Linked DNA regions of Homo sapiens: region 2 is linked to region 1. The links come from fine-mapping of genetic effects on gene expression. A gene starts in region 1. The other region holds a variant in brackets. All regions are shown on one strand. Distances are from middle to middle.

Region 1 (5,366 bases):
CAGTCAAGATGAAGTGGTAGAATCACAATTCAAACCTAAATTGGTTTGTTTCCAAACTTAATTCCATTACACTTAACCCTTCCACAATTCAGGCCAGTTTCAATTCAAGACTATGTTGTCAAGCGTGATACCCACAACCAACAGGAAGGAAGAGAAGCAGGGAGAAATGCACTAGGCTAAGGGAAATCTAGGCTGGGTGTACAAAAGGCTGGGGTTAGCCATGCAACCTGTACTGTCACTTGCCTGATGAGGGCCTAGGACACAGCGGTAGGCATAAAGAAACTGGCCCTGGGCATTCTGGAAAAGAACTCGATGAGGGTAAAAGCCTGGGGGTCGGCTCAACTTCTCAAATGTAGCCCTCTCCCGATCCAGTGTCTGCAAGTCCTCCTCACTGGCTGAGTCTGAGTCTTCTGATCCCGAGATGCTGGAAAGATCTCCTGAAGACAGACAATATGAGATACACAAGTTTGGTACCCCATTTTTGTTCTTTCCTCAAACTCTAAACTAGTGCTTTCTTATACCTCCATGTCCTACTCCTACATAGGTCCCCCTACCACTCATCACCTGTGGAGCTCTGCTTTTCAAAGTCCAGGGCAGACAGGAGAGGCTTGTCCTTGAGACGTTGCTTTAGGTTAAACCGATGCCAGTCAAGCTTATAATGTTCCCTCTAGTACAAAGACAAAGAGTGAGATAAAGGTGGAAATATGCCCCAGCCTGGCCTTGTACTGGCCAAGACCAGTTATAGTATTCTAGGAAGTACAACCAGGTAACACCAACTGCCTCAGTCAAAGCATGGACCTTTATTAAGACAAATCAAATGTCTACCTCTCCCCACCCACCATTACACTTTTGCTTCTAACATCTAGCTCTGCACCTGACCTATTACCTGTTCTTGGTGGTTCTGGAAGGTCTGGTCACAAGTTGAACAAAATAACTTCTCTGAAATATCCATAGGACCCTGGAGTAGCTTTCTTTCTGGGCTTTCTCTCTCCCCTGAGCCTAAATAAGGGAAGAGGAATTGGACATAGAAAGGGAGCCCAAATCCACAGTGACAAGAATTATATTCAGAGTGTGATATACAAAGCAGAGGAGGATACAAAAGAGATGGCATGATACTGCCTTCAAGGAATTTACACTCTAATAGTCATGAAATAAACAGTACAGCAATCACTTAATGCAATAAACATGCTTCTGAAAACATGTACGTAAAATGAATGTAAATAAAATAAAATTGGCCAGGTGCAGCGGCTCACGCTTGTAATCCCAGCACTTTGGGAGGCCAAGGCAGACGGATCATGAAGTCAGGAGATCAAGACCATCCTGGCTAACACGGTGAAACCCCGTCTCTACTAAAAATACAAAAAATTAACCGGGTGTGGTGGCGGATGCCTGTAGTCCCAGCTACTTGGGAGGCTGAGGCAGGAGAACGGCATGAACCGGGGAGGCGGAGCTTGCAGTGAGCCGAGATCACACCACTGCACTCCAGCCTGGGCAACAGAACGAGACTCTGTCTCAAAAAAGATGAAGAAAAATAAAATAAATAAAACGAATGTAAATAAAAACTGGCCCTGGGCATTCTGGAAAAGAATCCGATGAGGGTAAAAGCCTTGGGGTCGGTTAAACTTCTCCAACGTAGCCCTCTCCCGAGATCCAGCGTCTGCAAGTCCTCCCCACTGGCTGAGTTTGAGTCTTGTCTAATTTAAATTAGCCAAACAGATTGTTTAGGTGAATCCTAAAGAAAATAATTTCTGTTCAGTTTAAAATTATTTTTCACTGCACAAAAACTACTTCCCAAATGCTTTTTAAAGTTTACATTTCCAATTAGTGTACAGTTTGTCTAAGGAGAGGTGCAAGAAAAGATGTAGCCAAACTAAAGTTACACAAAACAGGACCGACACGGTGGCTCATGCCTGTAATCTCAGCACTTTGGGAGGCTGACCCAGGCGGATCACTTGAGGCCAGGAGTTTGAGACCAGCCTGGCCAACATGGTGAAACCCCGTCTCTACTAAAAATACAATAATTAGCCGGGCATGGTGGTGCGGGCCTGTAGTCCCAGCTACTCGGGAGGCTGAGGCAGGAGAATCACTTGAACCCGGGAGACGGAGATTGCAGTGGGTGGAGATCGTGCCACTGCACTTTAGCCTGGGCGACAGAGCGAGACTCTCAAAAAATAAAGCTATACGAAACAAATAATAAATTGTTTCATATTCAGCAAAAAGGAATAATTTGAGTGGGGCCTGGTTAAATGTGGAATACATCTGAGAATTTTATCTCTACAAAGTTTAAAGTGTTTTTGAAGGGAATGGTGTTAACGTGAGGAGATACATGCAATGGCAAAAAGACTTGTTTGAAAACAAGGGCTGTGCTGGACATTACCCAGAGATTAAGTGAATTTAATCAAGCAGAAAGATAAATCAATTGGCCTCCTAAGCTCGGGAATACCAATAAGAATGTGTTCCCTGAACGGGCAATACGCTGTAAGGAGCCCTGTCACGTTTCACACGAAACCTTCCAGGATACCTGAACAGGAAGTACGCGGAGCCCGGGCCAGAGCCTCCCCAGGCGCGTGGCTCACCAGGCTCAGGCCCTGAAAGACCGGAGCATCCGCGCTGAGGTCAAACAGGGAGATCGACGCAGGAGCCGGGGCTGCATCTGGAGCCGGCGACATGGCTGAGCAGAAATTATTTAGCAGCAGCTCCTGGAGTAGAAAGCGTGTAAGAAACAGGGCTCCTGCAAACGAGATCCTACTGCTGCGTCTCCTGCCTGCCTGACTTGGTTTCTCCTGCACCGCAAGACTTCTCGTCTCTCATCCTGCTACCAACTGTGAGATGAATACCTTGGCCCCCGTCCACTTTCTCAAACCCCCAGTCTCAGCCCACAAAAGAATGAAATAGGCATTCGGCTCCCAAATCGAGTCCAACAGAGTTAAAAATCACTGAGCTTGCCTAGCCGAACTTTCTTCGTTACCCATGCGACCAGCAACAACTGGCCCGCGTAAACTCGCCCACGCCCTTAGAAGACGCACCAAACGTCCCGGGAGCTGAGCGGCTCGCAAGTCCTCAGGTCGATTGCCGGATTTCTGCAACACAACAATCCCCGTCACTACGGAGCAGCGAAGAGGACAACCGGCGGCGTCCGCACCTGAGCCCCGCCCCACGTAGAGCACACTATTGGGCCGCTGACTGTCCAAGACCCGCCTCGAGACTTTAGTCCCGTCCCTGAAGCCGAGAATTGGCCGTTGTGTCTCCGCCCCCCGTGCTTATTGGCCAGCCTGGCTGCGGGTGACAGTGAGTGGCAGACACCCGGCCTAGCGCCGCGGGTCGCGCCGAGCCGAGCCGAGCCGAGCGGAGCCGGCGGAGCCTCTGGAATCACCCGGGTCGCTGTTCCTGAGGTAAGACGTGAGACCGGTTATTGGAATCCCAGGCCCCGTGTCTGGCCTTGCCCAGGGGTGCCTGCGGAGCCCTAAGTGAGCTCGCGGCGGGTAACGGAGGAAGGGGCGCCGCCGGCGGGGCGGGGGCGCGCAGCCGGAATGTTTTGATTGCTGGCGCGCGCAGACGGGGGCGCGCGCGGGCGCCGGGGCCGCGCGCGAGGTTGTCCGCTGTTGGGAGCTGCCAGCCCTTGGCCTGGGGCCGGGCGACCCTGGGGCGAGGTGGACTCCGGTCCACGGTCGCCGCGGCTGGGTGTGGGGAGGCAAGCCAACCCACCCGGGCTATCAGCTGTAAGGCTGACTCGATCCCTGCAACATCCGCAGGAACCCCTGAGCCCAGGCCCAGCCGGCCGGGGCTCCACGGGCCCTGGTCCACACTGACCCTGTGAGTGGTGACTTCCCTGAGGGGCAGGGCTCTCACTAGCCCAGGGAATCCCACCGGGGCCAGGCTGGGCCAAGATCCACGGCCCCCAGGGGCTGCACGGACAGGTGAGTACCACCTCGACCATGCCTGGCTTACAGGACCTAGGGAACCCACAAATTCACCTAGGATCGGGGGTCTACACTGACCCAGTCAAGGTTTCCCATCCAGAAGGTTTGCTCACCGGCTGGATCTTTGGTGCTAGGGAAGTAAGAGAAGGGGTTGACCAGAAAGGTCCTCTTCAGGAAAGACTCTTGAGGTTTTGTGGACCCTGAGAAGTATGTCATTTCTGAGGCTAAGGTAGGGCAATGGAGAAATAGTCCAGAGGCGCCCCTGGCCTCAGGTCTGTACCCACTCATTCTCCATGGGGTCCCTAAGTTACTTCTTGAGACCCTGGAGTTGGAAGAGTGGCCCGGTTTAGCACAGCCAGAGGAAGTGCTCGTAGTCCTGGGCTGGAAGGGTGCTTCTTCCCCACTGCAGCCTTCCTGCCCCATGCTTGGCCTCCTCTTGGTGGGGTGTGGATGGCTGGGAGGGTTGGGTTCCTTTTTATCCCCACTGCCCACTCTCTGGGGCCTGACATCTTCTCCTCCAGCAGCTGCAGAGCATCGAGGGCTGGAGAGGAGCACATACTGTCCATGGAGCTGGTAGGGCCATGTGCTTTTCTCAAACATTTGTTTGTGAAGTGCTTCCAAACTGTTAGTCTCTTGGGAGACCAGGGTTCCCAGGATGGGCGGGGGAGGGACTCTTCTGTCCGTTAAATAGAAGATGAAACAGCCCCCAACAAAGGGACAGATTCTGGCTTTGGGCCAGGAAAGCAGCAGTAGACACCCAGACTGGCCAGAGTTAAGGCTCCCCCAGCCCTGAGCTTACTGCCTTTCTTGTGTCACTACTCCTCTGCCTCTGAGCCAAGGAGGCTGGTAGTGGACAAAGCCCAAGGGTACTTTCTCCTTTTGGCAGTAGGCAGGGCAGCCCATGGGCAGCAGCTGGAACTGAATCAGGGTCTCTTCTTCCTCCTTATTGGCAGGTGGTCAAGGTGGACAGGGGGCGGTGGTGATGGCGCAGTTTGACACTGAATACCAGCGCCTAGAGGCCTCCTATAGTGATTCACCCCCAGGGGAGGAGGACCTGTTGGTGCACGTCGCCGAGGGGAGCAAGTGTGAGTTCTTGGATATGACAGCCATAGGGAGAGTTGATGGAAGAACATGGAGAGAGCAAGGGGCTTGTGTTCTCCCAGGGCTCTGACATCTCTGTTCCTATCCCACAGCACCTTGGCACCATATTGAAAACCTTGACCTCTTCTTCTCTCGAATATCCTTTGTGTTTCTGAGTTGGAGCTCTGGGACCTTTAATGTCTCTCTAAGCCGGGGCTCTGGTGGGAGGTGGGGGTAGGTTTGACTCTAATACCTGGAAACGGGAATGGAGCTCATCCTGAGGCTGAAAGAGGCTGGTGAAATCATCGTTAAGTAATGATAGCCCACATTTACCAAGATCTGTGTGCCTGTGTCCACTTTGTGGTG
Region 2 (5,313 bases), 47 kb after region 1:
TACAATTTGCCCACAAGCCTAGCAAGCCATCCTCTGGAAGTATTAGGATATTCGTGCACAGGACACTAGAATTATCACATTTCTTGTTTTGGAGACTACACTTTTATTAATGCAGCCTAAAATTAAGTTTATAAGCAGCAACATTAAACTATTAGCTGTTTGAATACATAGCTAAAATGTACTCCCTCCTCCCCTAACATAAACATGTAGCCAACTCTTCTCCCCTCAGCCTGTACTTTTCCAGTTGATTTTTGTTTAGCCTAATTGTAGGTTTCACATTTCTGCTTTTTTCTTTTACTCATATGAAAACCTCTGGCCCTTTCATCGTGGGGCATGAACCGGCCAAGACACCTGATAATAGAAAAAAAAAATCATAGACAAACATGTAGCAACCATCAGACCATGGTGAATGTAAAGAATAGACCCTCATGAGGCTGGGCGCCGTGGCTCACACCTGTAATCCCAGCACTTTGGGAGGCCGAGGTGGGTGAATCACCTGAGGTCAGGAGTTCGAGACCAGCCTGGCCAACATGGTGAAACCCCACCTCTACTAAAAATACAAAAAATAGCCAGGCATCGTGGCATGCACCTGTAATCCCAGCTACTTGGACGGCTGAGGCAGGAGAATTGTTTGAACCTGGGAGGCAGAGGTTGCAGTGAACCAAGACTGCACCATTGCACTCCAGCCTGGGCAACAGAACAAGACTCCGTCTCAAAAAAAAAAAAAAAAAAACCCACAAAAAACAAAAAACCAAAACAACAACAACAAAAGAATAGACCCTCATGAAACTCCAGGCCTATGGAGAATATTTTGATCCAGCTACAAGCTTCTGGTTCTATTGTCAATGTCCAAGCTTAATAAGAAAATAGATTAAAGATAGGACATGTTGCAGTCATTGCCTGATTAATTCTATTTTTCTTGAATTGCTTGCTTATTGATTAGAACTGTTTTTCCATTCCCCTCTGAAATCTCTAAGTGATGAAAAGTTCGAGTTCCTTTAGTGGCACAGGACAGGGGCTCAATCAAACCCTAGAATGATTCTCAGTCAAATGTGAAGCAAACAGAAAAATTCTTACACACTTAGGAAAGACATGGCATAAAAGTCAACCTCAGAAAGACAGGCAGCATTACCATATGGTACCTCCAGCAGACAGCCAGGCAGCATTACCATATGGTACCTCCAGCAGAAAGACAGGTAGCATCGCCATATGGTACCTCCAGCTGAAGGCGGAGGACATGAACTCATAAAGGAGGCCATCTGCTCAGTTCTGGGCTTTTCTTCCCCAAAGAGGAAGGCTTGCCATGTCCACTCTTTGTTAAGCCAAGGCATCAGATTGGTTCTCTATAGTTCCCACATCCTTGTGCATCTTCCTACCTGTGCCCTATTAATGGACAGGGGCTGTCTGATGCATTTGCTGAAGCCAAAACTTCTTGGGTTTGGGTTCTGGCTCCACAATTTACTGGGACCTGTGGCCTTCAGGAAGCTTAACCTGTCTATAAAATGAAGTTAGTAACAGTATATATCTGACCTGTGAGGAAAAATCTTAATACATATAAATCACTCAGAGCAGAGCCAAGCACATACAATGGACTCAGTAACTGTTAAGATACTATTTCTTCAGTGTTCCTTGGCTCCAACTCATTTCTAACACAGGTAAAGGTCCTCTATTGCTTGTTTGGCTTCCCCAGTAAAGATAAATCCAGGCTGAGTGAGTTGTTAGCATGTAGATGGGTGAAGACTTCTTAAGAAAGCAGTGTTAAGGTTGTAGGCCACATGGTAAAACACAATTTTTATGGTCCCGAATTTCTACCGATTGGGAAGACAAAGCAATTTCCTCCTGCATATACTTTATTCACACATGCTAAATCTCACTAAACAGATCACACTGTCAAGGAAGATGGCTAAGGAGAAGCTAGGGTTGTCAAGGTAATCCTTGCTTCGGCCCTGTTTTGCAACAAGGTAATAAACAGCCAGAACAGACTGGAGTGAAGCAGGTTAAGGGTGAGGAGAGAACACAGTGCAGTGCAGGGTGTGGAAGGCAGCTCACAGTCAGGGAGGCAGCAGTTCTAGCCAATCAACACTTTATTTTTCAAGTCAACACCTGCACAGATGTTAGTGTCCACTTCCTGACCCTAGTAGGGGGTCCCACTACACTTGGATCACCCAGAGGAGCAGTAAGGAAGCTCCTAATCTCAAGAGAGAGCACATGCTCACCAACTCCAGTGCTGGCGCCATGTACTGCGGGATCCCTGCTCTCCTGCATCATGAAAGGCCGGGCTGAATGGGGCAAGGATGCAGTGAAGGTTACACAGACTACAGTGACCTAAGAGTGTAACTACTGGCCTGACCCACTGCCCCAGGTTTACTCTTTACTTCCCAGACCAGGAGCCTCCCTAAAGCTTGGCCAGTGCCCACGGGATAGGAGGAGCTGGCAAAGGATGGGGTTGAGCTGCTAAGGACAGGACACAGCAGGGAAATAAAGCAGAAAGGAACACAAGACAAGAGAAAAATTATAAAGTGCCTCAACTAAACAACCAAGTGGGACATGAGGGCAGAGCAGCACAGGTCCCTGAGGATAGGAGGAAAAAGAAAGGGCCAGACCACCAGGGCTTGGGGCATAGTGGAATGAGAATAGAGATGAGGCAGGGAGGCAAGCGCAGGCTGTGGGAAGGACTTCCCTAGCCCTGTTCACATCCACTAACCCAAATGGAAAATTATTTACAAATTTAAAACCAATCCTAGGCACAGGTACTGCACCATGCCCAGGACAGCAGGCAGGCAGGCAGGCAGAGGGTGGAATAGCTACCATCCGACAGCCAGCTTCCCCACACACTGCCCCACCCCAGAGTGGTAGGCAAAGGAGGAAACAGCAACACTCCTAGCCAGGAAGCCCTACTGTGCCTGCAGCTCCTTCCTCAACGGCTGGCTCATGGCTCTGCCACGGCCTGAGCTTCTTGGTCTGACTGTACCAGAGAATGGATGTCGGGCCCCAGGGGTGGAGCATCAGGGGGTTTTGGCGGTGTCTCTGGCTCCAAGCCCAGCTCTGCATTCAGCTGCTCCAGCTCCCCCTGATCCAGCAACTCAAAGTCCTCAGTGGTGAGTGCC[T/A]CTTCTTCCTCAGGGGCAGGCAGGGGCTGGGGTGAGTCCTGGGGAACAGGTGGGAGAATGGAAGGGGAGGGGGCTGGGTCACTTCCAACAAGGCAAAGTGGAGGTGACAGGGTGCCGGGCAGAGCAGTGAGGCCACCACTCACTGTCTCGGGGCTCAGTGTCTCCACTGGTCCTCCAGGGGAGCATTTCACTCCATCTGGGGGGGACCCTGCCCCATTGAAGTGCGTGTTCACAAAGTGGAGGGGGGATGAGAGCCGCAACAAGGTTTCCTTAGCTGCCACATCCTCTTCCTCTTCCTCCGAGTCCAGGGCTTGCCTTGACAGAGCTTGAGGACGGCCTAGTAGGTCTTCGGGAGGGGCCAGCTCTCCCTCCTCTCCCTCCCCTAGGTCCCGGCTTAGGGTCTCCTCTGGTTCACTTGGCAGGCTCTGCTGGTCCAAATCTGTGCAGAGAACAAAGAATTAAGAATGGGCCTGCTGCTGGTCTGATTAGCCACAACAGACAATGAGTTCAAGGATGAGAACTCAAGACATGGAAAGCTGGGCCAAGCCTTAGGTGTTAAGGTCTTTTAGGAGCTGAGAGAATTAGAGAGTGAGTGGGCCAGAGAGCACAGTAAGTACCCATGGTAGGGAACACAAAGATTGTGGCGGGGAGCAGGGCAGCAAAGGGCTCCCCATACCCTCGGAGACATCAGTCAGCTGCGGAGTTGTGGCCCGGGATACGGAGAAGCCACCACTCTCCAAGATAGAAGCCTCCTCATCTGACAGCTCTGAGTCTGTAATGGCCAAGGCCAATGCTGTTTTCTTCACATCCACCTGGCAGGAGAACCAGGATGAACACGACATGTGAGGGGATAAGAGAACCAATTTATCAGGAGCATCCCCTCTCCCAAAACCTCTGGCTTCCACCTCCTTTGGAGGTGGCAGCTCCAAAGCAGAAAGATTTTTCCTCTGGCTTTCTATTTGACACCCCCGCTTTCCCTGGACCTCACCACTGGGGAGAAGCCAGCCAGCTCTGCCTCGCTTTCACTCTCTGTCTCTGCCAGTGGCTCATCACCTCCTGGGGGTGCATTCTTCCCCTGACGCTCTAGAAAAGCAAGAGTAGTAGAGCAATGACCAAGCATGAATGATGGGAGGGGAGACAAACACAGCTAAAGAACTGGAGAAGATCTCAATTCCAGGGCATCTCATGAACCCCAAGCCAAGGCCCTCCCGCTCTTTCACCCTCCTGGCTTAGGGCAGCCCCTTACTCCTCTTGTCGTGTTTGTGATGCAGGGCATTGGCTTCTGCCTTCATGCTGTAGTCCAGCTGCATGAGCAGGGGCTCCAGGCGAGTGTACATCCTCTGGATCAGCTCATGATAAACCACCAGGGGCCACAGCAGGATACTCAACACTATGGGTTAAGAACGTGAACTAAGAGCTCCCTACGCCAATTTCCTAAGAGCCCCCATTCAACTGGTCCCTAAACTGAAGTGCTGAAGGTAGGCAAGGTCCTTTCCCAAGGCTGTGCCAACCTCTTCTTGCCACATCCACTGCCCTCCTCCCCAGGTAAGTCTTCCACAGTTACTAATACTAAAGCATCCCTGGAGATCTCCACAAATCAGAAACTGAGCAGAGAGAGCATAGTCTTCCCTCTGGGTCAGTCCAAGGAAAGAAGAAAGGAGAGGGCTTTAAATAGGGCAGGGACAGACCCTACTCACAGACAATGTAGGAAATCATAATCCCTGGAACATAGTGTCCCAACACAGCCAACACAGCACAGCCAGAGCAGACTCGAACGCAGAACTGCAGAGAAGAGCAAAAGTCTAAGAACATCACGCTGAGATATGCGCCCCGCTCGGCTGGGTAAGAAACTACTGCTCAGCTGGTAGAAGGATGGGTATGTACTCAAGGAATGGGGTGGTCCAGTTTGGTTAAGAGGATGCTCAAGACCACCAATTCAGGAAGCTGGCAATACATAATGCCCACCACCTGTAATTCACACTGGTCTGCCTTGGCAGGAGAAAGTGTCAGGCTATCAAAAGCTTATTTCCTGAGGTGAGACTGCCTCCTGCACCAGGGATTAGCTGTGAATGTTGCCTCAAGAAGGCGCCCAGGCCTCTTCTTTCAGGGTCTCCAAGCGGGGAGTTTATATCACTCCACTCCCATCCCCCGCCACCTCTATTCCCCTTCAGTGTAGTGAACTGTTGTATGATGTAGGGGAGGTTAC

Evidence for each region. PIP is the estimated chance that this variant, and not a neighbour inherited with it, causes the effect.
Region 2: its variant is the best candidate, but not a certain one, in a credible set for the expression of ATG9A in whole blood (TOPMed, PIP 0.78).

The regions. Positions count from the first base shown.
Region 1 is chr2:219,227,561-219,232,926 of GRCh38, reverse strand. It overlaps ATG9A (autophagy related 9A), which reads left to right and starts at 3,291. Exons shown (of 16, transcript NM_001077198.3): 1 at 3,291-3,392; 2 at 4,442-4,493; 3 at 4,874-5,005; 4 at 5,114-5,157. The coding sequence starts at 4,903. ANKZF1 (ankyrin repeat and zinc finger peptidyl tRNA hydrolase 1) reads right to left here and starts at 3,121. Exons shown (of 14, transcript NM_018089.3): 1 at 3,027-3,121; 2 at 2,522-2,699; 3 at 887-999; 4 at 565-667; 5 at 244-437. The coding sequence starts at 2,669. RefSeq lists enhancers at 2,927-3,036, 2,707-3,254, 3,255-3,802, 3,803-4,351 and silencers at 3,187-3,316, 3,527-3,576.
Region 2 is chr2:219,180,246-219,185,558 of GRCh38, reverse strand. It overlaps RETREG2 (reticulophagy regulator family member 2), which reads right to left. Exons shown (of 9, transcript NM_024293.6): 5 at 4,805-4,889; 6 at 4,354-4,497; 7 at 4,096-4,190; 8 at 3,784-3,919; 9 at 84-3,546. The coding sequence ends at 2,930. Among named protein-coding and RNA genes, the nearest start is that of RETREG2, 4.6 kb to the right of the region's middle. The variant T/A (reference allele first, on the strand shown) is at 3,108.